4 linked regions of the Homo sapiens genome follow. The protein of the gene in region 2 purifies or fractionates together with the protein of the main gene of each other region. This does not show direct contact. Each region holds a gene or a part of one and is shown on either strand. Other genes may lie near its edges. The genes, in order: DNAAF10, KSR2, PPP5C and MAP2K2.

Region 1 (7,505 bases), on a different chromosome or scaffold from region 2:
GTCAGAGCACTAACATCCTTGGTTTCTTTACAAGTCTGTTAAAAAACAAAAAAGGGTACAAAATACCGTTGAGAATCAAACAGAAAATGTCCTAACAAAATACTGGAAATGTCCTTTCCCATTATTGGAGAATTTCCTTCACCACCACCTTTCCCTAATATATTCTGTATGACACAGGTTCTGGTCAGATAAGTGCTGTACTTTATTTGCAAAACAAAACGTTCCCAGCTCCAAAGCTTGGCTGTTCCACCCAAAGAGTGTCAAATAACTAACCGCACTATATGATCAGATTTTGGGGTTAACAGCAAGACTCCTCTGGCACAACCCAATCTCTCCCATTCTGAAGAACCTCTACCTTCTGTCCATCCCTTCAATGCCCAATGTCCTCTTCTCTTCTCTCTCAAGGCAGTCTTCCCTGGGATTCCTGACTTAATCTTCTTAGTTATCATTTATATGCTGATGTTTCTTAAACCAACAGCTCCAGGCCTAACTACCTGCATGCACTGATTGGGGAAATAAAGAATGAATGAAGCACTGAACCTGTCCTCAAAGTTTATTTGAGAAATGCAGAAATAACTGTTATTCATAAAAAGCCTACCACTGTAAATAACACGTACTATAAATAACATGCTTTACACACCATAACTCTAACCTTCACAACAACTTTGAATGTTAAGTGATATGACTACCTTCGTATGTGAGGAAACTAAAGTACTAAAAAGCAAAAAAGGTAAGATTTAAACACAGGTCTGATTTCAAAACTGTTATTTCCACTGTCCCATGCACATTCACAGTCTAGTTGAAGAGACCACGTATTCAACAAATGTAAAACCATATGGGCTTGTGCAATGGGAGAGTCCCCAGAGCTTTCCCATTTAAAACTAGACCCTAGTTCCAATCCTATATGTGACCTTAGACAAGTCCCATAGATACTTTAGGTCTTGAGTTTTCTCATCAGTAAAATGAGGAGGTCAGAGTAGAAGATCCTGAGTGTTCCCTACTAGTATAATAGAAAATTTCCCTTATTAGACTGATGACTGTGGCCAAGTTTCCTCACATCTTTAAGATGGGAATATCCTGAAGACTAAATGATGTAGAGCATGGTGTAATACCACTGTGTGTCTGGTATATGGCAGCATCAACAAATGTTAGTGGAATCCAAAGTGATTATCCTGCAATAAATAGGACAATAAAGCACATGAAAAGTTTAGGCACTGAAGATATGACTGAAAAATGGACATACCATAACAGAGAAAGAACTTGAGCTAGACCCGGAAAGATACTGGAACTGAAGTATAAAGAGAAAGGAGTAGGGAGGAGCGGACCTCTTTCAAAGGCCAAAGCCACCAAAAAGTATGGACATAAACAAACTTTATGATCCGTGAGAGACAAACTTGTGACTGAGTCTCCTACTTGAAAAGCAAGTTAAGTCCAAAACTTTTTCCTTTAGAAATGTTGAAGATGCTCACGCCTGTAATCCCAGCACTTTGGGAGGCAGAGGCGGGTAGATCATGAGGTCAGGAGATCAAGACCATCCTGGCTAACACGGTGAAACCCTGTCTCTACTAAAAAATACAAAAAATTAGCCGGGCGTGGTGGTGGGTGCCTGTAGTCCCAGCTACTCAGGAGGCTGAGGCAGGAGAATGGCATGAATCCAGGAGGCGGAGCTTGCAGTGAGCCGAGATTGCGACACTGCACTCCAGCCTGGGCAACGGAGCAAGACTCTATCTCAAAAAAAAAAAAAAAAAAAAAATTTTTTTTTGTTTTTTGAAGATGCCAGGATGTCATAAAAGCATTGTGATCTGGGAAACTTAATCTGGCACTGGCAGATGGATGAGTGGAGAAAGGAGAGACGTCAAACAATGAAGCAAGGGAAACCTACAACGAAACCACTCCTTGGCAGGAAACCATAAAAGCCTGAATGAGAGAATGGCAACAGGGACAAAGAGGAGTTACTCTATCATGTTCTATGATATTTTACACTTTATCAACTATTTAGAATAGTGCCTTTCTTTGTTCCATTATTATATTCCATTAACAGAGATGAGACTATACCAGTCCGGATGATGGTAAAAGAATCCTTAAAAAGGAAAATATAATTAATTTCGGTTATCGATTCTGGTATGAAATTGGCACCCAGAAAAGAAAGCCCAAAGTAAATTTAAATGTCTAATTCCCGGATTGATAGCACAGAATTTAAAATATATACATAGGCTCGGTGGGGCAGCTCACGCCTGTAATCCCAGCACTTTGGGAGGCCGAGATGTGATCACCTGAGGTCAGGAGTTCGAGACTAGCCTGGCCAACATGCTAAAACCCAGTCTCTACTAAAAATACAAAAATTAGCCAGGTTTGGTGGCAGGCACCTGTTAACAGTGAGCCAAGATCATGCCACTCACTCCAGCCTGGGTGAAAGAGCAAAATAAAAAGATATATATACACACACACACACACACACACACATATATATGCATGTTTCTTATCAAAATAATACATTTTTTAATCAAAAGAGCACCATTAAAACACAGTCATGCACTGCATAATGACATTTTGATCAGTGACCAACCGCTCATACCATGGTGGTCTCATAACAGTATAATGGAGAATATACAGAAACCTGATATATGGCACTGGATACCGGCAATGCAGATCAAGTAGATGAAATGACTGATATTCAGTAATGGTGCTGGGACATTTGGTTTTCCATATGAAAAAAATATATAAACAAATATACACATACCATCTAGGTTTGTGTAAGTACACTCTATAATATTCGCACAAGGACTAAGTCATCTGACAAAACATATCCCAGAACATATTCCCGACGCTGACTGTATATACTTCTTGTAAAGCAGCAAGTGCTTATATTCATTATTTACCTGCTTCTGTTTATGGCAATCTCTTTACTCGACCTTTTCTCAATTTGACATAGAACATTATAAAAGATACACAGAAGAAGAGCCAGTATTTTGGTGTGATCTCAGAACTAATTTACAAATTCAATTAATATTTGTATCGAATGCAGATTTTTAAGGCATTTGGGAAGTTCAAACTCAATATGGTAAATTTTTAAACTGGACAAAAACCATACAACAGAAAAGTCCCATTAAGTAAAGCCTATTCATGCCTTTTCATCTCTGTAGGAGAGAAAGCCTGGTGTATTGGGAAATGATTGAGATTTTCCTTACCCTGATTTCTACATTCCTTGATTTCAAGTTAAAGCGTATCTGAAGTCCCAAATGTTCCACAATAGGAGTAAATATCTTCATCCAGTTTTCTTTCAATGGTGTGTATCTGTTAGCTGGGACTGGAATTTTCCTTGTTTCTTCTTTCCCACTCTGTAAATAAAAGAACACACAACTCAGAAGGCTATGGAGGGACGGTGATGGAGTTTAAAATGACATCTGATCCACAAAGGGCCTCCTTTAACTGAACTAGTTACACTTCAAAGAATCACTTCTCTCTGAGCATCACGGCAGAACAGCCCCACCGCAGCTTCAACATTCTCCAGAGGCCATCGGCTTGATCCGCGTCTGGCCCTTGCCTCGTTGCTGTCCTAGGGTCCCAGCCACATACCAGGAGCCCGTCCCCACAGAGGGGTGGGAAGACGGGCCTCTTCGCCGGCCTGGCCTCCTCTGTGTCCATGCGGCCCGCATCCCCGCCCTCTCCTGCTGCGGACAGCTGTTCAGCCTGTCGTTTCTTCGCCCGTCGGCCACCCTTGCGGGTGACCTGGGTAAAGCCCTCCTCTGCCCTGGCGCTCTGCGTTTCCATTTCGGATTCCATCCCCGGAAATCTTAAAGCGCTGCCGGCTGAAACACGTGCGCAGCTGCACCACGCAGAAGCCAGCCTCAGCCAACCACCCCTGCAGCTCCGCCCCTTTCCTAAAACGTCACAGGCCGGGGACCTGCAGGATTTGGGGCCGGTGGGGGGGAAAACGGGGTTAGGCTGTCCTAAGATATGCCTGATGGTCTTGGGCTCACTCCAGCCGCGCAACTCCCAGCCCAAGTATTTTGTAATCTCTAGTATGTATGTGTGCGAAAGGCAGTGGGTAAAGGCGATAAACAAATTCGTGCTGTTGTGAAGGAACATTCTGTGCGATCGCAGGAGCGCATCTGGCATTATCCGGGGATAACTACAGCCAACATGCCAGGGCATCTGGGGCAGAATACGGAAAGCGGGAGGGACAAATTGCCAATGTTTGGAGTCTGGTTTCCAGGTTGCCGTTTTTGGGGGCTCTGGGTGTGGCGGTTGCCGTAGCTGAAATTGGCTGCACCATGTCGGCCTTCGAGAAGCCTCAGATCATCGCCCATATCCAGAAGGGCTTCAACTACACGGTGTTTGACTGTAAGTGGGTGCCCTGCAGCGCCAAATTTGTGACCATGGGCAACTTCGCACGGGGCACCGGCGTCATTCAGCTGTACGAGATCCAGCACGGGGACCTGAAGCTGCTTCGGGAGGTGGGTGCCGGGTCGAGGATCCGGACTGCCGTTGGGGGCGAGTGCGGATCCTGGGGTCTGCATTCCTCTTTGCCAGAGCCTTCGCCCAGCGTCCCCCAAAGCATGGCTTGAGCCGCGCGAGACCAGAGAAGCTGACCGCCGACTGAGGAATGTTTCCTATTTAAAACCTTTCTTCTCATCCGCGGGGTAGTTCCTCCGCGCCCAACCGTCCTGCCACCCCCAGTGCAGTCCAGCCAAAGCGGGCACCAGGATGCCTGCAGTGTGGTTGGAAGAGGCAACCTAACACATTCGACAGGCATCAGCTGAGTGCCTGGTATTCCCAGGGATGTGAATGGTAATGTCCCCCATCTCATGGAGTTTATTTTCTAGTGGGAGAGATACTCAGTTCAATAATCAAAGCAACGATACATAAATACAAACCGAGATGAGTTGTCTCACACAAAGGAACACGGTTACGGTTCAATGAGAGTGAAAACAGATTTGGGATGAATGAAAACAGATTTTGGTATGTGCAGAAGCTAACTAGGTCAAACTAGGAGTAAAGGACAAGGTTTCCAGGGCTTCTGCACATGCAGAAGCTCAGTGATGGGAAGAAGTTTATCTCCTTAAGAAACTAGAGGGATAAGCAGGAACCAGACATTGCAAGATCTGTAGGACATTCAAAGGATTTATGCCTTTTTTCTAAGAAAAAACGGACACAACTGAAAGGATTTAAGCAGGGTGTGGAAAGATTAGGTTTGCAAGGTTTTTTTGAAGATTACTAGTGAAAGAATTAGAGAATAATGATAGTAACTAGCATTTTATAGCTGTTTATAGTTTTTAAAAAGTGTTGATTTTGTTACCTGAAAAAATGATCAGTCATTATCAGATCAGGGTTGTAATAGACTACAAGTGCAGGGTAGGTTAACTCTGGGGATCAAAACCTATGGAGAGAATCTGCTTGGAGGAGGTAGGGATTAAACTGGTAGATAAAGGATGAATACAATTTGGACTGTTAAGCCTAGAATAGAAAGTATGTAAGACCCCATCCCGCTTTAAGTTTCCCTGAATGACAAACATGAAACATGGCTTATTTTTTTCTACCTTTCCTTCGTTCCTTGTATTGTTCATCACTTAGCTTCTGGTAACCAGTGGCTTTTTTTTTTTTTTTTTTTTTTTTGAGACAGGGTCTCAATCTGTCACCCAGCCCGGAGTGCTGTGGTGCAAACACAGCTCACTGCAACCTCCGCCTCCCCACCTCAGCCTCCCAAGTAGCTGGGACTACAGGTGTGTGCCACCACACCTAACTAATTTTTTTGTACTTTTTATTTTTTTATTTTTTATTTTGGTAGAGATGGGGTTTCACCGTGTTGCCTAGGCTGGTCTCCAACTCCTGGGCTCAAGCAGTCTGCCTACATCGGCCTCCCGTAATACTGGGATTACAGGCGTGAGCCACCAAGCCTGGCTACCTGTTGCTATTCCAATGTTCAGTTCAGATTATCTAATGTATGATGCCCTTCCTGATTTCTACACAAAGTAAAATTTCTTTACATTGCATTTTGGGTTGTTTTTGTTTTTTGTTGTTGTTGTTTAGGGATGGCGTAGCTCTGTCCCAGTCCGGAGTGCAGTGCTACTGTCATAGCTCATCGCAGCCTGGAACTCCTGGGCTCAAACCATCCTCCCGCCTCTCCCTCCCAAAGTGCTGGATCAGGTGTGAGCCACCATTAAAAAGAAAAGGTATTTAAAGGATTTATTCCTTTTTCTTTTCTTTCTTTCTTTTTTTTTTTTGAGACGGAGTCTGGCTCTGTCACCCAAGCTTGAGTGCAGTGGCGTGATCTTGGCTAACTGCAACCTCTGCCTCCCAGGTTCAAGCGATTCTCCTGCCTCAGCCTCCCTAGTAGCTGGAATTACAGGCACATGCTACCACGCCCAACTAATTTTTTTGTATTTTTAGTAGAGATGGGGTTTCACCATGTTGGTCAGGCAGGTCTCAAACTCCTGACCTTAGGTGATCCACCCGCCTTGGGCTCCCAAAGTGCTGGGATTACAGACATGAGCCATTGCACCTGGCCATTTATTCCTTTTTCGAAGAAAAATGGGACATGATTGAAATTTTTTTTTTTTTTTTGAAACAGGGTCTCACTCTTGCCTACGATGGAGTGCAGTGGCAGGATCAGGGCTTAGACCTGTGACTTTTTAAAATAAGAACAGGCCTGGTGCAGTGGCTAACGCCTGCAATTCCAACACTTTGGGAGGCAGTGGGGTGGATTGCTTGAGCCCAGGAGTTCAAGACCAGCCTAGGCAACATGGGGAAACCCCGTCTCTACTTTTTGTATAAAAAAAATACAAAAATTAGCTGGGCATAGTGATGCGAGCCTGTAGTCCCAGCTACTTGGGAGGCTGTGGTGGGAGGATCTCTTGAGCCCAGGAGGTCAAGGATGCTGTGTTCGCACCACTGCACTCCATCCTGGGTGACAGAGAGACCCTGTCTCAAAAAATAATAAAATGAAAATATATGATTTGTATGTATTTCAAAAGTACACTTACTCCATCAAGTGGAATAGAGTAGTTTGTCTTTTGTAGCGACTCTGGGGAATTTCAGCAAATTTTAAAAAGATAATTTTCTTTTGTAGCAAAAATAATATGTGTCCACGATAGAACATTTAGAAAATAGGAAAACGAAGAAAATATCACCCATAATCTCAATGCCAGGAATAACCACTAAGTGTATTTTCACGCCGGGTGTGGTGGCTCACGCCTGTAATCCCAGCACTTTGGGAGGCCGAGGCGGGTGGATCATGAGGTCAGGAGATCGAGATCATCCTGGCTAACACGGTGAAACCCCGTCTCTACTAAAAATACAAAAAATCAGCCGGGCGTGGTGGCGGGCGCCTGTAGTCCCAGCTACTCAGGAGGCTGAGGCAGGAGAATGGCTTCAACCTGGGAGGCAGAGCTTGCAGTGAGCCGAGATCGCGCCACTGCACTCCAGCGTGGGTGACAGAGCAAGACTCCGTCTCAAAAAATAAAAAAAGAAAAAAGAAGTATATTTTCACCTGAATCCTTTGGATA
Region 2 (7,544 bases):
TCTATAGCCAAGATGCCCATGGACTTCAGGACCCAATGCAGGGCACTAAGAAATAGAGACACATCCTTCACTGTGTGGAGGCAGGCAGAGACAGAGACAGACACAGAGACAGACAGACAGAGAGAGAGAGAGAGAGAGAGAGAGAGAGAGAGAGAGGTCTGTAGAGCCAGAGAGGGATGCAGAGCAGGCCTGAGGTGGCCTGAGTACTGGTCTGACTCCAGCAAGCACAAAACTCTCCTCAGACATCTTCCCCCACAGGACACCAAGGCTAACAGTAGGAACCAGAGCATGCTGGGGAAAGAAGTCAAGGTCTCCACATCTGAGCCAGGGCACCCTCTGTTTGGAGATGGAGACTCCAGGGTCCCAAAATCAGGCTTTGGGGAAAGCAGGGAAAGGCAGGCAAGTGCCAGGGGGCAGGATTTTAGCCACTTGCAGTTACCCTCAATAAATCATGATCTTGCCTCTGAGTCCACACATAGGCTGTTCCTTCTGTCTGACACACCGTTCCCTACCATTCTACTCAAATTTCAAGACAGGGTTCAGAAGTCTCCTCCTCTGAGAATCCTTCCTGGAGGGTCTTTCTCTGGGTTGGGAGCTCCTGTGGGGCCTCGGGACCCTACTGGAACTCCTCCCTCTCTTCATCGGACTCCTAGTACCCTGAAGGCAGCACCCACTTTTCTCCATTTTTTCCAGAATCACAGGAGGCACTTAACAAATATTTACTAAATGACTATATAAAATGAAGATTTGGGGAATGAAGGGACAAGGTTGCTCCACGCTGGGCTCTGCTGAGGGTGTAGTGAATGGGGCTGGGGACATGAGCCTTTGAAATACAAGCAAAATTTTCTTAGAATCCTTCGGCTGCTCAACTGTAGGCATTTGAAATCCACCAATGTACCCAAAAATAGGGCTATGAGGAAACTAGAGGACCGGGGCCCAGAAGCAGTGCCTTGTGGAATATGGGACAGCTATGGGAGCTCATGGAGAACAGAGACTCCAAATTGGATGCCATCTTGGAAGTGGAGTCAGAGAAGCTCATGTGACAGCATGCCTGACATGCCACCATATGGGCTTCTGGCCTCTGTGCTCCAAGCCTTGGGGCTTTATGAGGATTGATTCCAGACGCAAAGTCAGGGTGTGTTTTGATGGGGTGGGGAGTACAATCTATGATATTCCTTGATAGGTTAGGACCGCAGAGGCCCTCAGGAGGAGATAGACTTCCGAAAAGAAGGAAGAAGGAGCCAGGCAAAGATTTATGCATCACACAGTTGGGCAGAAGCCTGACCAAGGACAGCCCCTCCCTTAATGCTCCAGTCGAGCCAGGACTGTCCAGATAGCTTTGAAGGGGCAGGGTGTGCAGTGCTCCCTAGAAGGCTGGCTAGGAGGGAAAGGGGGCCGGGGCAGGGGGCCTCGGTGTGGCAGGGCAAGTACCTTAGAGTACCTTGATGCCCATGCTGTAGCTACATAGCAGTTACTTGAACTTACACAAGTTCATATGTACCCATCTAAACATTATTACTTGTAACACATGTAGAAAAATAAGCAGAGGAAAATGGCTAGAATCTTACAGGACCAATACATTACATTTGTTGTCCAGGACGCACTTAAGCTGCCAATGCCCCAACCTGGGCAGGGCTGTGTTGGGGAGAGGTTGACCCCATCTAGGGCAGAGCCCCAGCCAACTCAACTGTCTTCTTGGAAGGTGTCCCAATTCCCAAAGCAATTTTCCAAGATCTGGTCTTTTGCAGTGCCCGACTCGTCCTCTCTGTTACCCTTCCCAATCCTGGGACTGCCGGAAGCTCCAGGGATTTGATTCTAGGGGTAAAACAGCTGGACCTACAGAGGCCATCCTCACCCACTGCCTGTCTCCATGCCCAAATCAGTCACACGGGACTGGACAGAACTGCCACATCTTGTCCAGACTGTCTATGTTGTTGCTTCATTGCTACCAGAGACAGCCATTCTAACCCGGCCTGACTCTCTTCTTCACAGTGAACTGGGAATTGCAAGGAAGGTAGAAAAGGCCCTTCACTATCTGGGAGACTTTCCTTCCTGGGGAATACAGAAGGGCTTTCCCTGAGTAGCCTCAGAAAGCAACACCAAGATTGCCGGATGCAAGTCTCAAGATTTCAGCTCAGCAAGAGGATCTGCTTCTTAGAAGGGCTGTGGAAGGATGGAGAGAATGACTGGAGATTTCAGCCCCTGTCCGTGCAGACGGTGAAAGGCAAGTCCACATTCTCCTTACCTAGACAGCCTTCAAACCACTGGTGATGCTAACTAGTGCTTTAAAAACCTATTTCCCTGCAATGTTCACTTAAGGAGTCCCCTCCTTGTGTTTTCCTGTTCTCCTCTGATTTCCTTTCTCCCATGGAAGGTTGCAGATGGCAGGATGCTGGATTTGAATCCTAGTCGCGTGGCCTGGAGACAACTCAGGGGACATCTGGCAATGTCTGGAGATGGTTTTGGATGTCACACTTTGGATGTCAACTGGAGGCTTTTGAAATCCACCAACATACCCAAAAATAGGGCTATGCTGGAACTAGAGGACCGTGGCCCAGAAGCAATGCCTTGTGGAATATGGGACAGCTATGGGAGCTCATGGAGAACAGAGACTCCAAACTGGATGCCATATCAGAAGTGGGGGTCAGAGAAGCTCAGGTGACACCATGCCTGACATGCCACCATATGGGCTTCCAGCCTCTGTGCTCCAAGGCTTGGGGCTTTATGAGGATTGATTCCAGACAGCAAAGTCAGGGTGTGTCTGGGGATGTTTTTGGATGTCACCAGTACCAGGTGCTACTGGTATCTTGTGGGGAGAGTTGAGGAAGCTGCTTAACATCCTCCAATGCCCAGGACAGTCGCCACCTCAAAGAATTATCTGGCCCCAAATAGCTCAACAGTACTGAGGTTGAGAAACCCTGGCTTAGAATGAACATCTCTTTATCCTTCTCTTCCTTTAGATCTTGACTTAAATGTCACCTCCTCAGAAAGACCTTTGTCAGCAGCTCTCCCACAGTATACCCTCTCCCATGTTTCTGGTCCCCCGTGAGTTTTCTTTCCATAGATCTACATGAGTTGCAAATTTATATATTTGTGGTTGACTTGCTTCTTGTCTCTCTTCCCCATTGGGCTTTAGGCTTCAGAACAGGTGAGACATTGTATCACTCATCACTGAATGCCCAGGGTCTAACACATAGTAGATGCTCAACAAATCACCCACTGAATGAATGGTTGGTGAAGAAATCTCTGTCAGAGAGGACAGAGGTTCACTGAATTCCAGACAAACCCAGAATGCCAGCATCTGTGTGAGGACACAAAGACCTCTCTTCTACCTTGTTCATCCTGTCGCCCACCACTCAGAAAAGGCCTCTGGTTATTGTTGGCCTGTATTTATTTCCTCCTGATATCCTGGTACCAGCCTTTCCAAAATTCTCACTGTAGTGCTGGAGGTCAGGGTATTTTTAAACTAGAAGAACTAGCCAAGCTGGTTTTTTTTTTTTAAGTGGTGGAAAAGAAAAACTAAGATTTGTTTTTAATCATTAGACTTTCAAATTTAAGAAGGCGCGATGCAAATAGCATGTTGGCATAAACAAGTGCTGCCCGCTCAATGGAGGGAGGGAGCCTTTCTTCTGAGCTAATTTAAGCTAAATACATGGCAGCTATTTTTCATCTCTACAATTGTGCAACTTTCTCCTCAGTTTACAATACAGGGGAGATATTATCGGGCAGAAGTTGGATGGGGGATAAGTGAAGACGAGAAGGAAAAGAAGAGGCAGTGGACAAGAAGGTACTCTCAGCCACCGAGCTGGTGATTAGAGGTATTTCAAGAGCTCAGGAGTAGAGCTGGTGGTCCACTAGGACCTCAAGATCTTATCTGGGTGGAAACTTGATTTTGAGCCTTCCATTCAGGGAAGAAACCAAAGAGCAATTGGAGTCAGGCTCCTTTTCCTGCCCTTTATATGCAGCACCCCCTGACTTCCCAGAAGCCCAGACTGAACAGCAGAAATTTTACAAACCTCCTCAAGAAAGAAAAGCCCTTGCAGCTCTCCTGCACACCACCACGCACACTGTTATTCCTTAAGGCCCCCATATGCCGTGACTTCCAGCCCAGCTGTTACTAGACTGGGCATAGCATTCAGGCCTTGTGGTGAAGCCGTCCCAGAAGATAAATGATTTTTCTCCAAGCAGGCAGATTACCGAGTAGGATCATACACAGAGTCTTAGAGACAGAATCTTTCTTTCTGCATTTTCCAAGTTCCCTAACTGAGAAGAAACATCTGCAGAGCGCTGATAGACTGTCCACCAACTACAGCCCAAATGGCTTGGCTTCTGGAAGTTTCTGAGGCCTGAGTTCTAAACCTACCTCTGCCTCTTAGAAGGGACCTGACTTAGGGGAGTTTATTATAGCTTCCCTCTCTGGGCCTCAGATCCTGCTTCTGTGAAAGGAGAAGAGTGAGATAAGGGAGGGTCACTCATATCCATCTTAAGTGGTAACTCGAATGCCCTGAAGCTACATCTGTGATCAGTGGGAAGGCATGCTGTGATGGATTAGTGATGTCTGCCAAGAGTACAGCAGGGGACACTGGTGGTAGATCCATTACATATTTGTACTCCTTGGACCAGATCTTTATCCTTCTAGATCTTAGAGGTCCTTCTAGATCACCATCCCAATGACTTGGTTGAAGATGAAAACTCAGGTGAAAACTTAACCCTTCTGAGGGTGTTACATCTTATATACTTTTCACATTGGCCTCCAAGCCATGGTATGTTGGAGAAGCCACCAACACACAGCAGATTTGACCCCTCCATTGGAAGACACCATCAGCCAGATGTGGTGTTCTTGTTCATGGAACCACTGTCCACATGGATGGAATCGGGCTCTAAGCTACCTTTCTCATCTCCTAGCAGTGTCTATGAATGCTAGTGGTCAGCTCTTTTCTGTGGGCCAGTACATTGACATTGCCTCCTTCAGTACCAGGTAAGGTATCAAGTCTCATTCACAGAGGTTGACCTTGTTGGAGATTCAGAAACAAGCCTGGGAAAGCTTGGGAAGAACAGCCTCCTATCAGGCATTTAGAGATTCAACCACACAATAGTGTCTTAAAAGTTCTGATAAGTCCTGCAATCAAGAAATTAGTTTCATTTTACCTAAGCATTTCCAATGCATGCTTGTCCCAGGACCCTTTCAATAATGCAAATCCGGCGAGTTTTCCATGGAATGAAAGGTCTATGGGACATGCTTGGGAAACAAGGTCTTATTTAGATCAGGCACATTCTAGACAGAGTCCATCTCCTCCAGCTCAGTCCTCAGTGGAAGGAGGACAGCCATTCTCAACCCCATGAGATGAATCCTTCATATTCTTGGTGTTAGGAAATGGGAGCTGCATGATCCCAATGAGTGGGAAGGAAGGGCCCTTTCCCACCCCTGAGAGGGAAGAGCACTCACTGATGTACGCCTCTCAGGAACACGGGACCACAGTGCAACATCCAGCAGGAGAGACGGAGGGGATAGGAAGCCTGGAGCAGGGATACTGGAGGGACCCAGGAGGGACTCTGCCAACCCAGATGTACATTTCCTGGAAATCCGGGCTGCTGCTGGCAGCCTGTCAGTTTGAGAACATAAGTTCAAGCTTCCGTGCAAACTCCCAGTATGGTCCCTGCCAGCCCCTGCACCCTCCCTTCCACAACTTCCTGCTTTTCCTCTCTCTCTTTCCTGGTTCCAAGTTGCCAATAAGTCTCAGAGGCTGGGATTGTAACATCCCCATGAGCAGCTGGACATGAACCCCTTGACCTGGAGGTGGGTTCCTGGGAATGGATGAGCCCAAAGACTCGTTTTTAAAATGCTGGGTCTGCAATTTGGAGGCTGGTTTCTGTCCCTGTACCACAGTTGCCCCATTGGAACGAGAATAAGACTACTGATCTCCCCAAACCATCATAGGAATTCCAGCCTGGCACGTAGTAAGTGCTCTGTGAATGAGGGCTGTTCAGGGTGGATTGTTACTCTGCCTCCTAGACATCCTGGGCCACCTGACTCAATGGGTCGCTTCATACGTCACAGATATTAAACCTGGCAAACTGGCTCAGCACAATGGCTTAGCCCTGTAATCCCAGTGCTTTGGGAGGCTGAAGCAGGGGGATTGCTTGAGACCAGGAGTTCAAGACCAGCGCGGGCAACATAGCAAGACCCTGTCTGTACAACAAATAAAAAATTAGCCAGGCATGATGGTGTGCACCTGTAGTACCAGCAACTTGAGAGGCTAAGGTGGGAGGATTGCTTGTGGCCAGGAGTTCGAGGCTGCAGTGAGCTATGATCACGCTGTACTCCAGCCTGGGTGACAGAGCAAGACTCTAACTCTAAACCACAACAACAAACCTAACAAACAAACTCATTGGGGTTGATATGGCACCCACAACATGGTCTGGCAAAGGGGAATCCCAATACCATCCAGCCCTGCCAATGGTGCCCTTCTAACTCCCTGTGCCAGGGTCTTACTCTTACCCAGCAAACCTCTCTGTCTGCATTCTGTAAACATTTCTTGAGCACTTACTATGTGCCAGGCACTACTAAGACAAGTCCAGGAGGTCACTGGGACCGCAGATTTTCCATCAACCTCCTGCCCCACTACTGGTTTCAAAACTAAACTGGTAACAGAATGGGTATGGATTGCAGGGCCTCGAGAAGGGAGTCTGGGATTTGGGTTAATATCATAGTCAGGCACTGACCAGAGAGGACAGAGGTTCACTGCGGCTCCACATTCCAGGACCCAGACTGACATTTGCTGCCTGTCACTCCCCTTGGAGTTCAAAGTGATTCCCTTGCAGGTGTGTGCAGGTGAGGGTGAGGTGGTACGGGAGGAGGTGAGGCTGGGAGCCAGGGAGAGTGGCCACATGAGTCTGCCTAGGAACTTCCCCACATCACAGGCAAAGCCAAAAAAGGAAACAGCAAAATGTAGCTCATCAAAATCCACTCCTTTGTCAATGAACAAGAGTATAGATAAAATCAGATGCTGTGTCACCAACTGCTTTGGATAGGGTCATGAGGCACATTCAGGGGTCAAGTGACAGTCCGCTACAGACAAGCCACTTACACACAGGCTGTTCCCATACAGCCACAGAACTGAGATCCAGAGCTGTTGGAATTCAGTGATGGGACGTGTTGATTGGGGCAAGCTTGGTAAGCATGACAGCAACAGCCTGACCTTGTAGACCAGGAATTCTGGGGAATCTATCTTCAAGGGCACCTGGGTTCTACAGTGGAGGACCAGTCAAGGCACAAGAGAAAATGTCTTAGAGGGTGTTATAAGTTGTGGTGTCCCCAACAAAAAAAAAAAAAAAAAAAAAAAGACATGTTGAAGTCCTCATTCCTAGTACCTCAGAATGAGACTTCATTTGGAGAGAGGGTCTTTGCAGATATAATTAGTTAAGATGAGGTCATACTGAAATAGGGTGGGCCCTTAATCCAATGTGACTCGTGTCCTTATAAGAAGATGGCCATATGAAGATAGGGACACACAGAGAGATGATGAGGGCAGGGATTGGACTGA
Region 3 (7,544 bases), on a different chromosome or scaffold from region 2:
GACTGGACTCCAGGGTAAGACAGGAAGGAGTCTAGATTAGTGGACAGGTGAGGAGGGGTGGTGATCGCCAGCCAGGCTGGAGGGACAGAAATAGATTCAAGAAGTGTTTCAGGGAGGAAGTGAGAGTGGCTGCCTGGAGAGAGGGTGGACGGTACTCCAGGCAGGGAAAAAAAAAACAAAAACAGGTGGCAAAGGCCCAAAGGTGAGCAGAGCCAGGCATGGAGGCCATAAGTGGGGCCACAGCGTAGGAGGCTGGAGGAGGTTATGATGAGTTTGCAGGGAGTAGATTGCGCAGGGCTGTAGGAAGGAGCCAGGGCTTTCTGGGGTGGGGTGGCGGTGGGGGGTGGGGCTCTGGGGAGCCCTGGGAGGTTCTGAGTAGGGAAAGGACAGGGTCAGGTTTGTGTTTTAGGAACACCCCTCTGGAGGGGCAGGACAAGAGGCTGCGAGGCCAGGTGGAGGCTGAGCCAGGAACCTGGGCAGGAGAGGCCAGACCAGGGCTGGGTGGGGCTGGAGGGTGAGAAGGGAGTGGCTGAATCTGAGAGATGTTCAGGAGGCTGACTTGGCAGAATAAGTGAAGTGACTACCGGGCTTTGGGGGCTGAGGGATGGAGAGGAGTCCAGGATGAGGCTGTCTCAGCCAGGTGATGGGGTGGAAGGTGGAATTCCCTGGGATGGGAGCAGCCTGCATGGGGGTTGCTGCTGAGGCCGCATCAGAATTCTGGGCCACAGCAGCCATTGGGAGGAGCCTGTTGCCCCCCAGGACCTGGGATCCAGGCTCTCAGGAGTCCTGGGGCTGGGCAGGCAGCCAGAGGGGCCTGGCACTGAGCTGGCACGGAGGAGAACGGCCCTGCTGGCCCAGGCCCCTTGCTGTCTGTCAGGCAGTAGCAGGCACAGAGCCCCAGGCTCCAGGGCTGTGGGAATAACAATAAAAAAGAATAATGACAGCTCACCTTAATTGAGCCTTGTGGCCAGGTACGCTGTGGGGTTTAATCCTCCCCGGGGGCTGGGAGATGGCTAGGAGTGGCCCTGTTTGTTTTATAAAGGAAGCAAGGCTCGGAGAAGTGAAAAAACCACTCGCCCAAGGTCAGAGTGTGTGAGCAGCAGGGCCCGGATATCCCCTTCCTCGCCACGTGCTTGGCTCCCACGTTCAGGTTCCTCCCAGAGCTGTACTGGCCCTGTTGAGGAGAAGAGGGGCCCCAGCAGGGAGAAGAGAGGTCCCAGGGCTCAGAGGACTGTCCCCTCAACTGTGGCTGGTTGCTCTGTAAGTTCAGGCCTATTCCAGAAATCCTGGGGGCAGAGCCTCGTCCCCCGTCTCATGTCTGAGTCTAAGGGAAGTGTCTCAACTGTCTTCCCCTCTCTGTGGGCCTCAGTGCCCCGCTTCTGTAAAATGGGGGGTGGGGGCTTATGCTTAACCCCTAAGGAGGCTCCAGGTATAAGAGCTTGTGGGGAGGAAGCAGGCCATGGTTGAGAGCTCAGGCTGCCTGGGTTCAAACCCTATGTCTTCCTTTACCTGCTTGATGACGCCTGGGCAAATGACTTAACTTCTCTGGGCCTCTGTTTCCTTGCATCTAAAATGGGGAATGTCTTGAGGCTTAAATATGGTCCTGTTTGTAAAGCGCATAGAACAGGGCCAGGATATGGCATGTGGGTCGACCCGTGGAGTACAGGCTCCTCCCATTTCCTCTTGTTCCCTTCACTTCCTCCCTTCATTTAGTCATTCACGCATTCACTTCTTTTGCCTGCTTCTTTTGCTGCAGCCAGTTTTCTTACACAAGTTCGTAAAATCCTCACGGCCACCCAGTGAGGCAGAGCTCAGAAAGAGGAGGCTATTTGCCTGCAGCCTCGAGTTAGAGATCTGCAGAGCCGGGTGGCAGGCCCTGAGACTCCAGGATCCCCTCCCTGTGCCACTGGAGTAACAGCTGCCCCATCAGGAGCGCGGGCCAGGCAGCCTCTGGACCACAGCCAGGAGGCCTGAAGGAGTCCTCAAAGGCGCTGGCATTCCAGGGAGGGTCGGTCAGATCTGGGCTGCCCAGTTCTGCCCTTGTTTGTTTTTGGGAAGTCCCGGGCCCTGCCCTCCTGGGGCTTACAGCTCTGGAGGGACACACTCATTACTCAACAGTGACGATGAGAGTGGACAGGGCTGGCACAGGAGATCCCAGGGGCTGGGGCAGCCCAGTCGGGGGCCTGACCCAGCCTGGGAGTAAAGGAGGGCTTCCCGGAGGAGGGGACATGTGAGCATTTGAAAGATTGCCAGGAGTTGGCGTGGCAAAGAGGAATGTTGTTAGATTGTTGCTGGCCACATCCCCAGGACCCGGCTTCTCCCTTCTGTAATGTCAGTCCTCATCTCTCTCTGCATCCCTCCTTCCTTTCCCTCTGGAGCCACTCATGGAGCCTGGGACTCTCTTCTTCCATCTCTTCAACCAACTGACTCCCATCCTCCAGGTCTCAGCCCCAGTGTCCCCTCCGAGCTGCCCCAACCCTAAACACTGGGCACCACTGTCTAGGGATGGATCTGTCTCCTCCACTGGATGGTAAGCCCTGGGAGGGCAGGGCTGTGTGTAAGAAGGACTCTCGGAGTGCTGTTGAGAACATTAAAATGGGAGTGAGGGTGGGGACTCTGTGCAGGGCTGCTGGTAGAAGGACTCTAGGAAACCCTAGTCCACAGGGGGTTCCTCAGTAGCCCAGGGATACCCAGGTAGTAAGAGGCAGAGCTAGGGACTGGGCCCAGGCCACCTACTCCTGCCTCTGTGCTTACCCCTGTGCCACGCTCCTGCCCAGAGGTCACCATGGCATGGGGCGTGAGAGTGGGAGCCTTTTGGTCTTGGCCTGGCTCAGAAGGCCCACTTCTCGGCCAGGCGCTGTGGCTCACGCCTGTAATCCCAGCACTTTGGGAGGCCAAGGCAGGAGGATCACGAGGTCAGGAGATCGAGACCATCCTGGCTAACACGGTGAAACCCCGTCTCTACTAAAAATACAAAAAATTAGCCGGGTATAGTGGCGGGCGCCTATAGTCCCAGCTGCTCGGGGGGCTAAGGCTGGAGAATGGTGTGAACCTGGGAGGCGGAGCTTGCAGTGAGCGGAGATCGCACCGCTGCACTCCAGCCTGGGCGACAGAGCGAGACTCCATCTCAAAAAAAAAAAAAAAAAGAAGGCCCACTTGTCACCTGCTGTGTGACCTTGAGCACCGGCCTTTCTTCCCTGAGCTTCAGTCCCCAGATTTGGAGACGGGGGTTAATGTAGTTTCCCTGGGCTTGTGAGAGTTCAGTGAAGGGGGACCTGTGTACTAAAGCCCTGCATGGCTCTGGTACATCACGGCCCCCAGTGGGGACAAGCCTCTAAGGCTGTTTAAGCCTTGGCTCTCCTGCCTGTCAAATGGGCACGAGGGAGGGATCAAGCCTGGCTCTGCAGGTGCAGACAGGGCATTTGACCTTGAGCAAGACCTCCATGGCTTGTCTGTAAAATGAGCACCAGATGGTCCTTACTCCCGTGGAGACATGAGGATTCCACAGGTCACGAGGTAAAGTGCAGGGTACAGCTATAGCTCATCTCAAATAAAATCCGACCTCTCCTCCTTGGCCAGATGTCACATCCTGTCACTCCACACTTAGAACATCAGTGTCCAGACCTCACTGTGGCTGCCCGGGGCCCAGGGATCTGTCCCACCAGCCTCCCTGCCTCATCTCTCCTCCCCCTGCCCACTCCACCCAGCTGCCTCAGCTCTCACTGGCCCTCAGACAAGGCTCAACCACCTCTGGGCCTCTGCACCTGCTCTTCTTGCTATCGGAGTGCTCTTCCCTCAGTCTGCTGCTAGTGCCCAGCTTGGGGCTGGAGGGGTGGGTGGGCGGGTGTGTGGAGTCCTGGAGACTGTGGCCGAGAGGACAAGCCCTGAGCTAGGTTGGTTGGGACAGGCAGGAGGGGCAGGCTGAAGAGATGTCTCTGGGCTCAGGGTAGCCCTCAGCTTCCCCATCTGTGAACAGGGAGACTGGGCGTCACCCAGCCCAGGGCCTGTCCTCGCAGGGTTGGAGCACTGCCTCATGCCTCTTCTTCTGTCTCCGCAGCCAAGGACTACGAGAACGCCATCAAGTTCTACAGCCAGGCCATCGAGCTGAACCCCAGCAATGCCATCTACTATGGCAACCGCAGCCTGGCCTACCTGCGCACTGAGTGCTATGGCTACGCGCTGGGAGACGCCACGCGGGCCATTGAGCTGGACAAGAAGTACATCAAGGGTTATTACCGCCGGGCTGCCAGCAACATGGCACTGGGCAAGTTCCGGGCCGCGCTGCGAGACTACGAGACGGTGAGCTGGGGAGTGGGCCAGGCCTGGCACCTGAGCCAGGCAGATACTGAGGGCTGGGCTGGCGGGGACGGGTGTGAGGAGCCATTCACTCCTCTACTTACCACTCAGCCAGCCAGCAAGTGCCTGTGGGGCCTTGGGCCCAGGCCAGAGTACCCAGGCCACAGCTCTGCTCAGCCATCTCACATTTTGTGACCCTGAGCCAGTTACCCCGCCTCGCCACACCTTCCTTTCCATATCCGTGAAATGAGGAGAACAAGAGGATCAGCCTCAAGGGTAGCGGTGAGGAAAAGTGAGCTTTTGCCTTTCACACGAGTAGACCAGTACTTGGCCCGGGGTCAGTGTCCTGTGATGGTTCACCTGATGGTTACTGTCATTGTTAGTGCTGGTGCTGGACAGGAGCCACACAGCCTCTCTTCTTCTGGTGGAGCTTGTCTTTCAGGGGCAGGCAGAAAACCCACCACTGAATAGGTTAGCAGAATAATTGCAGGTGAGGATCTGCACTTTGAAGAAAAGAGGAAGGGCAGTCGGGCACAGTGGCTCACGGCAGTAATCCCAGCACTTTGGGAGGCCAGGGTGAGAGGATTGCTTGAGCCCAGGAGTTTAAGACAAGCCTGGGCCACATAGGGAGGAGACCTCATCTCTACAAAAAATACAAAAATTAGCCAAGCGTGGTGGCACGCACCTTTAGTCCCAGCTACTCAGGAGGCTGAGGCAAGAGGATTACTTGAGCTCAGGAGCTCAAGGCCGCAGTGAGCTATGCTCTCACCACTCCACTCCAGCCTGGGCGACACAGTGAGACCCTGTCTCAAAAAAAAAAACAAGAAGGGTGATATGCTGCCAGGGACAGCAGACAGGATATGTGTGATATGCTGATGAGGGAGGGGACCTAGGGCACAGTGAGAATTCGCTAGTGCCCTCACCCACCTAATGAAAATCCTGACGGTATGAGGCTCTGCAGAGCGAGCACACACCTTCACACCAGGTGTGCTCTGCATCTTCCTTCAGGGAGGCTGGCTGAATCATTACAGCACCCTGGGACGTGGGAACTGGGATTACTCCCCTTGCACAGATGAGGAAACAGTCCCTAAGGGGTGAAGTCACCTGCCCAGTGACCCCCACCTGGTTAGTAGCAGAGCTGGGATTTGAACCCAGGAGGCCTGGCCTCAGGGCCTTATCTCTCCCACCTCAGAGTTCGCTCCCTGAGACGGGGCCGTGCGCTTGTCCTGCGCATGGGGATGGTGCAGCAGGGGGCTTGGTCAGTGTGTGTCGAGAGGATTGTTATCCTGCCCCCCGACACAGACACACTTCACTCCCTCCTTCCCTTGCAACCATCACACTCGGAGCTGCTTGTGTCGTGTAGGGAGGGGCAACCAGGGAGCTGGGAGCCGCGAGTCTGCAGTTGGTCGCGGGGCTGAGAAGCACGAGTCTGCAGTCGGTGGAGCCAGCTCAGACACTGTCCTGGCTGTTGGCCGCTGGCCTGGGGTGGAGGGTGGACTTCAGGCCAGGTGAAGGCTTGAGCTAAGCATGAGTCCAGGGGACACATGTTAGGATGGGGGCAGAGATGTGGCGGGGGGTTAGGGCGACACCTAGAAGGGTGGGGGCAGGGGCAGCAGAGCAGAGGCCTTCCCAGCTTGGGCTCCCAAGCCATTCTTGGCCAAGCCCCTCCCTCATTGTCTCTTCCTGTCCTAATCTAGAAAATGGTGACAAGAGGAGTGGCCGCCTCCGGATGGCTGTGGCTGTGATGACATGGTTGAGTAAAGGTCACGAGCTGCAGGGCTCAGTAATGAGTAACCAAGGACAGTCGGTGTTGGGTTGGGGCAGGGCTCCAGGTGGGAAGGGGGCCTGGGGAGACAGTGGGGCAGAAGAGAGGAGCCCCAAGGACAGGTTTAGGGCAGGGTCTTCATCTCGTGTGGGGCTGCAGGAGCATCTTTCCCCAGGGTAAGGAGCAGGGGCTGCAGGCAGGGTCTTCGTCAAGTGTGGGGCTGCAAGAGTGTCTTTCCCCAGGGTAAGGAGCAGGCTTTTCAAGACTCTGGCCCAGTCTAGGGCCCAACCCCGCATACTCCCAACCCCGCATACTCCCTGAGGCTGGGCTGGTTGGCTTCAGCCATCTTGTGGGTGTGCCACGTCTGAGCTGTGTCCCAGGCCTGGCGGATGGCAGGGAGGGTTGAGGGGGTGGGGAATTCAGAGTCTTTTACAGAATACCCAGCACCTAAATTGTCATGGCCCATTTCCCCATGGGGGCTCTCCCAGCAGCATTGGGGACCCCCACATGAACATGAGGGCTTACCTGTCATCAGGCCATCCATATGCCTGCAGGCCTTCAGCCTTGCTCCTTTCTGCGCAGTTCTTCAGGCTCCATGTGCCCTGGGGCAGTTCATCTTCCCAAGACTCTACCTCCTGCTTGCTGGATGCTAGAGTTTCCTCCTAGACCAGAAGCTCGCCAGGGAAGCAGAGCAAAGACGTGACCTTGGCCTTGGGCGGGGGAGCTCCCCTTAGCCTCGGTTTCCTCAGCGGTCTGCTCACTCTGGGCCCAGCACTGCTGGGAGCCCTTTGTGCACCTGAATTCAGCCTGAATTCAGACTGAGGCCTAGAGAGGAGATGTCCCTCCTCCAAGGTCACCCAGCAGGGAAGTGGCAGAGCTGAGACTTGAACCCCTAGTCCATGCTTGTAACTGTTTCTGGGCCACAATCAGTTGAATAGCTTCAGCACTTTTGTCTTCATCAAACAGAGAATTAAAAACGGTTCATTGTTTGGAGGAAGTGTGTATAAATATTGTTTTGTGGAAATGACTTTTCATTTACACAAGTACAGATGAGTGATGGATGTGATATAAAAATCCCTATTTTACATGTGGGCTGCAGGCAGAGAGTCTGCGGTCACCAGTGCAGGGGCTAGATGGGGCAGGCTCTGGGCTCAGGACGCCTAGGTTCACAGCCAGCTCAGATTGGGTAGCAGCTGCATGGCTCCTAGTGCCTTTTTTCTCAGCCTTAGTGTCCTCATCTGTTAAAGGAGGTGAGAATATAGGAATAACAACCAAAGTGTTTTTTCTTTGTTTTTGTTTTTTGTTTTTTGTTTGAGAGAGAGTCTTGCTCTGTCACCCAGGCTGGAGTGCAGTGGCACAAATCTTGGCTCACTGCAACCTCTGCCTCTTGGGTTCAAGCGATCCTCCCACCTCAGCCTCCCAAGTAGCTGGGACTACAGGCGTGTGCCATCAAGCCCGGGTAATTTGTGTAATTTTTGTGGAG
Region 4 (7,544 bases), on a different chromosome or scaffold from region 2:
GCTCACATCTGTAATTCCAGTGCTTTGGGAGGCTGAGGCGGGAGGATCGCTTCAGGCCAGGAGTTCAACACTGGGCAGCGTAGCAAGCCTTCATCTCTACAAGAGATTTTAAAAATTAACACACAGGCTGGGAGCGGTGGCCAGCTAGGGGACCGCAGTGCAGTGGATCTGGAGGCTCAGCCCCGGCAGCTGCTCCCAAGTCCGAGCAGATCCAAGAGGGTTCGAATCCGATTCAGGCACTGACCCCACACAGCCTCGGTTTCTTCAACTGTAAAACGAGGCTGCTGTTCAATTTTAATGAGAACACGCGTCAAAGGTGTTGGCAGCGGCTTCGACTCAGGTCGTCACTTGTGAGACAGCAGCTGGTACTGTGAGGTGGCCTTGGGCAGGCCGTGTGACCGCCACCCTGGAAGTAAGCTACAGCGGAGTGGAGGAACTCAGAGGCGAGAACAAACACTCTCATCTCTGCTATGAGCATGGACAATTCAAAGAAGCCCCACACGCGTAACAAGCAGCAAGTTCTTCACCTATCTCCCTGGCCCAGGTAACGCGGGGACGCTGCTCCAATGGGAGAGGGGTCAGAGGCCACGGTCAAGCCAAAAAGACATTTACAAACCAGCATGACCTCAAATACCGAGACTGGGCCAGGCGCGGTGGCTCACGCCTGTAATCCCAGCAATCTGGGAGGCCAAGATGCATGGATTCCTTGAGGTCAGATGTTTGAGACCAGCCTGGCCAACATGGTGAAACCCCGTCTCTACTAAAAATACAAACATTAGCCAGGCATGCCAGCCACTCAGGAGGCTAAGGGAGGAGAATCGCTTGAACCTGTGAGGTGGAGGTTGCAGTGAGCCGAGATTGTGCCACTGCACTCCAGTCTGGGTGACAGAGCGAGACTCTGTCTCAAAAAAATAAATAAATAAAAATAAGTAAATAAATAAGATGAAATGAAAGGAGCCCTTGCAGCCCTACCTGCATAGCAGCCAGAGCCGCTGAGCCCACGAGCTCAATGCATCCTCTCCCACCCGAGTTTTCGGGCACTTTAAAGAAAACCTAATTTTGAAAGAATTATAGAAGCACAGGAAGTTGCAAAAATAGTAACGAGAGTCCCGTGCGCCCTTTCCCCGCCTCCCCCAAGATGACTGACATCTTACATGACGGAAGGACAGTACTGACACCCAGAGCTGATGCTGGGACATCTCCACCCACCAGACCACAGAACCTGCCCAGCCACGCCTGCCCTCAGGTTCAAAGGCCCCGATCTCCCTTTCCCCGCTACAGTAAAGCTGCAGGTGGGCCCGGCTTCACCTGCGCCTGTCAGCAGGAGCAGGAGCTGCTGATACAGCAAGCATTGGGTTCATGTCCACTGCCCAGCCCATCAGGGACCACTGGAGGCTCCCCCAGAAGCCTGAGGGTCCCTGGCACACACGAGGACTGGCACTGTCTCAAGGCCCTGCTGTGGCTGTGTGAACCACACGCTTGCCTTTTTCCACCCAGTGCTTCGGGCGGAGGCGGACCTGAGCTTTCCAAGGCTGCTCCGGTTTGGAAGAGGCTGCCTGCAGTACGGGGACAGAAATAGCAAGTCCGCGGCTGCACACTTCAGGAGGGAGGGAGGGCAGCACTCTAGAGGCCAGAAGACAGAGCTGCAGAGCTAAATCCCCGCAGGAGTTGAGCCGCTGCTCCCGAGGAAGGCAGGGCCCTCAAGCACTGCTGCCACCTGCGCAGACCCACGGGACTAGGTGCAGTCACGTTCCCCCAGTTTGGGGAACTACAGGATGGTGGGCTTCCAGGAAGAGGCAGCGTTCTAGGTCTGAAAGAACACCGGTGAGGAGCTGAACACCCTGTCAACACTAAGTCCCCTACTTCTGTGTTTAAGAGCCACTGTCCCCAAGTGGTCACATCCTCCCTGTATCCCCTGGGCACTATTCTCAAACACAGAGCACAGAGGCTGCATCATGGCCCAGGAGCCCGGGATGACTAAGCACGGGGGCCGTCAGCACCAGGGCTTGCAGACTTTCAAAGGGTGGGTGACAGTCAGCTTTGTGTGTCTCCTCGGTGAGACCACGGTGCCCAGTTGTCAAACGCCAGTCTAGAGGTTGCTGGGAAGGTATGTTTTTAAGATGTGATTAACCTTTAAATTGGCAGACTCTGAGCAAAGCAGATTACTCCACCCCAGGGTGGGTGAGTCTCAGCCAATCAGCTGAAGGCCTTCAGGGAAAAGCCTGCCCAGGCGCGGTGGCTCATGCCTGTAATCCTAGCACTTTGGGAGGCCGAGGCAAGAGGATCACTTGAGGTCAGGAGTTCGAGACCAGCCTGGCCAACACGGTGAACCCCATCTCTACTAAAAAAACAAAAATTAACTGGGTGTGGTGGCATGCACCTGTAATCCCAGCTACTCGGGAGGCTGAGGCAGGAGAATCCCTTGAACCCAGGAGGTAGAGGTTGCAGTGAGCCAAGATCGCACCACTGCACTCCAGCCAATTCCTTAGAATAAATCTCTCTCTACACATACACTCAAGTATCATTAAGGACAGGGATACACTGAGAAATCCCTCTCTGGGCGATGTCGTCACTGTGCAAACACTGGAAAGCCCATTCCACACCCAGGCTCCCATGCTCTGTACAGCGCAGTGCTGAGCTGCTGTCTGTTTATTTAAATATAGAGAACCGAGGCAGGCGGATCACCTGGGGTCAAGAGTTCCAGACCAGCCTGGCCAACATGGCGAAACCCTGCCTCTACTAAAAACACAAAAAAATGAGCTGGGCCTGGTGGTGTGTGCCTGTAATCCCAGCTACTCGGGAGGCTGAGGCAAGAGAATCCTTGAACCCAGGAGGCGGAGGTTGAAGTGAGCCAAGATCATGCCACTGCACTCCAGCCTGGGCAACAGAGCAAGACCCCGTCTCAAAAAGTAAAAATAAAAATAAAAATAAACATACAGAAGGCACAGCAAAAACATGGCCTGATCATCTTACGTCGCCACCGCTGCGTAGGCGGTCTGTCACTGGCTGAGCCATCGCCCTGAGGTGGCTGTACACATAGGCGCAAACACACACACGCTTCGTCTTCATCGCTTGTTTCTCTGGAGAACCATAACACACTCGCATTTCTGAAACCCCCACGTGCTAGCTTTCTGGGAATATGGATTTCAAGTGCCCTCCAGGGCAGAAAGTAGTCACTGGAGGGCACAGCTGTGTGTGGCTGGTGTGGCTGGCACGGCTCCCATCTGCCCAGAAGCTGGGCCCTTTCTCAGGACCTAGAGTCCCTGGTGGGGATGAGGGACAGAGCCTGGAGCTAATCAGAATGCAGAGACCCGGCTGCCTTCCCAACCTGCCTCCTGTTTCCAGGGGGACCTTCCCCACCACTCCCCGACCTCCCCGACCCCGCAGTGCTCACCTTCCTGGCCATGATGAGGCCCGAGGGTCTGTGCTGGACTTTGGTGACCACCCCGCCGTTGCCCGCGCCCAGCTCTGAGATCCTTTCGAAGTCATCGTCTTTGAGTTCGCCGACCTTGGCTTTCTGGGTGAGAAAGGCTTCCAGCCGCTTCTTCTGCTGCTCGTCAAGTTCCAGCTCCTCCAGCTTCTTCTGCAGGTCCACCAGGTTTGCCCTGCAGAGACCCCCCAGGGTAGGGGTTAGCTACCTAGGGAGACTCCATCTGGCCGTTTGCTATGTGGCCGTGGTGCATCGGCCCCCAGGAGGACACAGACTGGATTCCTGCACTTGAGGGGTTCATGGTGTAGAAGGAAAGGATCCATGCTGTGTACCCCCATAGACACACCAATGACCAGAATCCAGGGCGGCTCCCCGGGAACTGAGGACGCTGCCTTGATCCTGTCTCAACAAGTCTAGCAGACCTCAGGACCTCAAGGATAAGCTGCAGCTCAAAGGACCCAGGAAGCCTCCGTCTTTTTCTTTTCTTTTTCTTTTTTTTTTGAGACGGAGTCTCCCTCTGTTGCTCAGGCTGGAATGCAGTGGCGCGATCTCGGCTCCCTGCAACCTTGGCCTCCCGGGTTCAAGAGATTCTCCTGCCTCAGCCTCCCAAGTAGCTGAGATTACAGGCTCCCGCCACCATGCCCGGCTAATTTTTGTATTTTCAGTAGAGACAGGGTTTCGCCATGTTGGTCAGGCTGGTCTCCAACTCCTGACATTGAGTGATCCGCCTGCCTCAGCCTCTCAAAGTGCTGGGATTATAGGCGTGAGCCATTGCACGCGGCCGGGAGACCTCCTTCCTAACGCACGAGCTCCGGACCATGTCGGGAGGAGACGAGGAAGCTGGGATCGGGTGAACGGAGCCCGGGCCAAGATGTCTGTCTTTGCAGGAGATAGAGGAACAAGCGTTCTGAGCAGCCTCAGAGCACAGAATGAGAACCAAGAGTAGAGGGCAGAAGGCTCAGCACAAAAGCTGCATCAGGTAGGCACGGTGGTGCACGTTTGCAGTCCCAGCTACTTGGGAGGCTGAGACACGAGAACTGCTTGAACCCGGGAGGGGGAGATTGCAGTGAACTGAGATCTTGCCACTGCACTCCAGCCTGGGCAGCAGAGGGAGGCTCTGTCTCAAAACAAAACAAACCAAAAAACAAAAAAAACAAAAAATAAGCATGACCAGCCTGGGCAACAAAGTGAGACCTATAGCCGAGCACAGTGGCTCATGCCTGTAGTTCTAGTTACTCAGGAGGCTGAGCCCAGGAGGTCGAGACTGCAGTGAGCCATGATCGTGACAATGTACTCCAGCCTGGGTGACAGAGCAAGACCTTGTTTCTACACAATAAAAAATTTCTAACAATTTAAACAAGCAAGTACATTGCACTTTATTGGGTGATTCAAGGAATCTTCAGAGGAAATTTCGACAGTAAGCTATTTTCACAAATGCCTTGACTCAGAACCAGATCCTGGAGTAACAGACAACTAAGCGCAATGCACACAGGAACCCATTGCTGTGCACAAGCAATGGAATGTAAACCATGCGCACAAATTAAAATCTTCTAGTACCCATGTTTAAAAAGAACAGGTGAACTCACTTCATTTATTTAGAGACAGGGTCCTGCTCTACCTCCCAAGCTGGGGTGCAGCGGCACGATTACAGCTCACTGCAGCCTCCAACTCCTGTCCTCAAGTGATCCTCCCACCTCAGCCTTCCTAGTAGCTAGGATCACAGGTGTGAGCCATCATGTCTGGCTCTTTTTAATTAATTAATTTTTATTATTATTATTATTTTCTGAGACAAAGTCTCATTCTGTCGCCCAGGCTGGAGTACAGTGGTGTGATCTTGGCTCACTGCAACCTCCACCTCACGGGTTCAAGCAATTCTCCTGCCTCAGCCTCCGAAGTAGCTGGAATTACAAGCACCCGCCACCACGCCCAGCTAATTTTTGTATTTTTAGTAGAGACAAGGTTTCGCCATGTTGGTCAGGCTGCTCTTGAATTCCTGGGTTCAAGCCACCTGCCCACCTTGGCCTCCCAAAGTGCTGGGATTACAGACATAAGCCACTGCACCTGGCTGAAATTAATTTTAATAACACATTTGATTTAACCCATCAAAAATGTTATCATTTTCAACGTACAACCAGTATGAAAAATGAATGAATGTTTCACACTGTTTCCGTCTTAAGCCTTTGAAATCTACAATGGCATTATTGCGCCTATGCTCTCGTGGGTTTGGGCAATTCTTGTTTTATGTGTTGCCTGTAGCCAGGGGCTACTCAACCAGGCAGTGCAGCTTTAAATGGCTCTCTGGAAGAACAGGCCACCTCCAGAGGTCCCAATTCAGGAAGGAGCTAAAGCCAAGGTGGACAGCCAGAGAGGGGACTGAAGCAGGGAATGAAGGCGTGGACTGCTCCTTCCATCTGGAAATTTCCAATCCCAAAGTTCGACCACTGTTCGCCTACAGCTGGAAGTGGCGTAAGCCACGGGGCACACAGGCCAGAACCGAGGCGATGGCGCTGGAGCTGGTGCTGCAAAGAGCTCGCTGGAAGGCAGGGGCCTGGGCACCGCTTCCTGGGCTGGACAAACACCATCTCATTCCATTCTCACCATCGTCCCCGGAGGCCCAGGCAGGAGGGAACAGACTCACAGGGGTGGGGGAACCTGCCCGAGGTAACAACACCTGCCTGAGGTCAGGACAACCCCTGCTCATCTTAGTGTCCCCCATGAGGGGAAACAGGGCCCTAGTAGGTGCTCACTGAGGAGCTGCTGAACAAGGACCCAGAAGAAGCAGAAATGGCGAGACCCTGGGAGTGGGACAGAAGGTAAGGAGGGGAACATGAATGAATGAATGAATAACATCAATGAATAAATGAATATTTATTTTTTTTGAGACAGTCTTGCTCTGTCGCCCAGGCTGGAGTGCACTGGCACGATCTCAGCTCACTGCAACCTCTGCCTCCTGGGTCCAAGCGATTCTCCTGCCTCAGCCTCCTGAGTAGCTGGGATTACAGGTGTGCATCACCGCGCTCAGCTAATTTTTTTGGCATTTTTAATAGAGACGGGGTTTTGCCATGTTGGCCAGGTTGGTCTTGAACTCTGGGCCTCAAGTAATCCACCCACCTTGGCCTCCCAAAGGGCTGGGATTACAGGCGTGAGCCACCACACCCAGCCATGAATGAACACTTCTGATGGCAGACTTGGAAGGTCTCAAGTACTGCTCAAAACATTGAAAATGCATTCTGGAGTCAGCTGACTAATCCATCTTAAATTTACTGGCAACCCAACTGTGGTTATTAAACAAAACAAAACAAAACCTTGGCGTCCCTACAGCCAGCTTCCTCTCCTGGGGGAATCCTTCAAGAGATGGGAATCAAACCCCACACGGAAGAGAAATGTGAAGGGCGAGTTCTGTGCAGAGAATGAGGAACGGGTCCCCGTGTCTGGCTGTGCCCGTGTTGACTTGCACACATTGGCATCAAGAGTCTTCATCTGGGTCACAGAAGGCCGACCCCCAAGCGGGAGAGGCCACCAGACATGCCACAGTCCCTGACACCTGGTTCTTGAGGGGTCACACCGCAGGCACGGCACCCGGACCCCAGCCAAGGGCCCCGGGGATCGCCCTGCCCTGCCTCGGCCTGCAGAACGGGAGTGCAGAGATCACCCTGGCATGACCCCACCAGTGTGTGCCCCCAACACCCAGTCCCCTCCCTCGTCCTGGAGCAGTGCGATTCTGCCAGCACGCCACCCGGACCCCAGCATACCCCTTTCTCAGATCCCTTCACCCAGGCCTCTGGTCGCCCTCCACCTCCTCAAAGCTTCTGCACTGGGTCAGCCCCTCACAAGGGTTTTCCGGTCCACTCACTTCAGAATCTGCACCTCTGCTTTCAGGGGCCAGCAGGGTCCCCTGATCCCCACGCCTCCTCGTTCCTCACACTCTGGCTTCCCTGTCTCCTCACACTTCCAGCTTCAGGGACTCCACACACTGGGCACCGCCACAAGCAGGAGATGCCCTCTCAGAGATGCCCATCTTGACATCTTGACCTCCCTGGGACCCCATCCTGACCCCCTCAGAACCCCAACATGAGACCCCTAGGACCCCCTGCTCTGCCCTCCCAGAACCCCC

The links.
Region 1: the proteins of KSR2 (region 2) and DNAAF10 purify together in Homo sapiens (affinity purification with mass spectrometry; 2 studies listed by BioGRID and IntAct, with this or other methods). This does not show direct contact.
Region 3: the proteins of KSR2 (region 2) and PPP5C purify together in Homo sapiens (affinity purification with mass spectrometry; 2 studies listed by BioGRID and IntAct, with this or other methods). This does not show direct contact.
Region 4: the proteins of KSR2 (region 2) and MAP2K2 purify together in Homo sapiens (affinity purification with mass spectrometry; 3 studies listed by BioGRID and IntAct, with this or other methods). This does not show direct contact.

What each region holds. Positions count from the first base shown.
Region 1 is NC_000002.12:68,154,213-68,161,717, reverse strand, and holds the start of DNAAF10 (dynein axonemal assembly factor 10), read left to right. Parts: upstream 1-4,190; 5' UTR 4,191-4,274; coding exon 4,275-4,457; intron 4,458-7,505. Other genes in the region: RNA-binding protein PNO1, read right to left, coding at 1-35, 3,189-3,338, 3,577-3,783. UniProt on the Homo sapiens protein: Key assembly factor specifically required for the stability of axonemal dynein heavy chains in cytoplasm.
Region 2 is NC_000012.12:117,454,917-117,462,460, forward strand, and holds part of KSR2 (kinase suppressor of Ras 2), read right to left. Parts: 3' UTR 1-7,544. UniProt on the Homo sapiens protein: Location-regulated scaffold connecting MEK to RAF. Has very low protein kinase activity and can phosphorylate MAP2K1 at several Ser and Thr residues with very low efficiency (in vitro).
Region 3 is NC_000019.10:46,349,691-46,357,234, forward strand, and holds part of PPP5C (serine/threonine-protein phosphatase 5), read left to right. Parts: intron 1-4,057; coding exon 4,058-4,299; intron 4,300-7,544. UniProt on the Homo sapiens protein: Serine/threonine-protein phosphatase that dephosphorylates a myriad of proteins involved in different signaling pathways including the kinases CSNK1E, ASK1/MAP3K5, PRKDC and RAF1, the nuclear receptors NR3C1, PPARG, ESR1 and ESR2, SMAD proteins and TAU/MAPT.
Region 4 is NC_000019.10:4,114,025-4,121,568, forward strand, and holds part of MAP2K2 (dual specificity mitogen-activated protein kinase kinase 2), read right to left. Parts: intron 3,606-7,544; coding exon 3,395-3,605; intron 1-3,394. UniProt on the Homo sapiens protein: Catalyzes the concomitant phosphorylation of a threonine and a tyrosine residue in a Thr-Glu-Tyr sequence located in MAP kinases. Activates the ERK1 and ERK2 MAP kinases.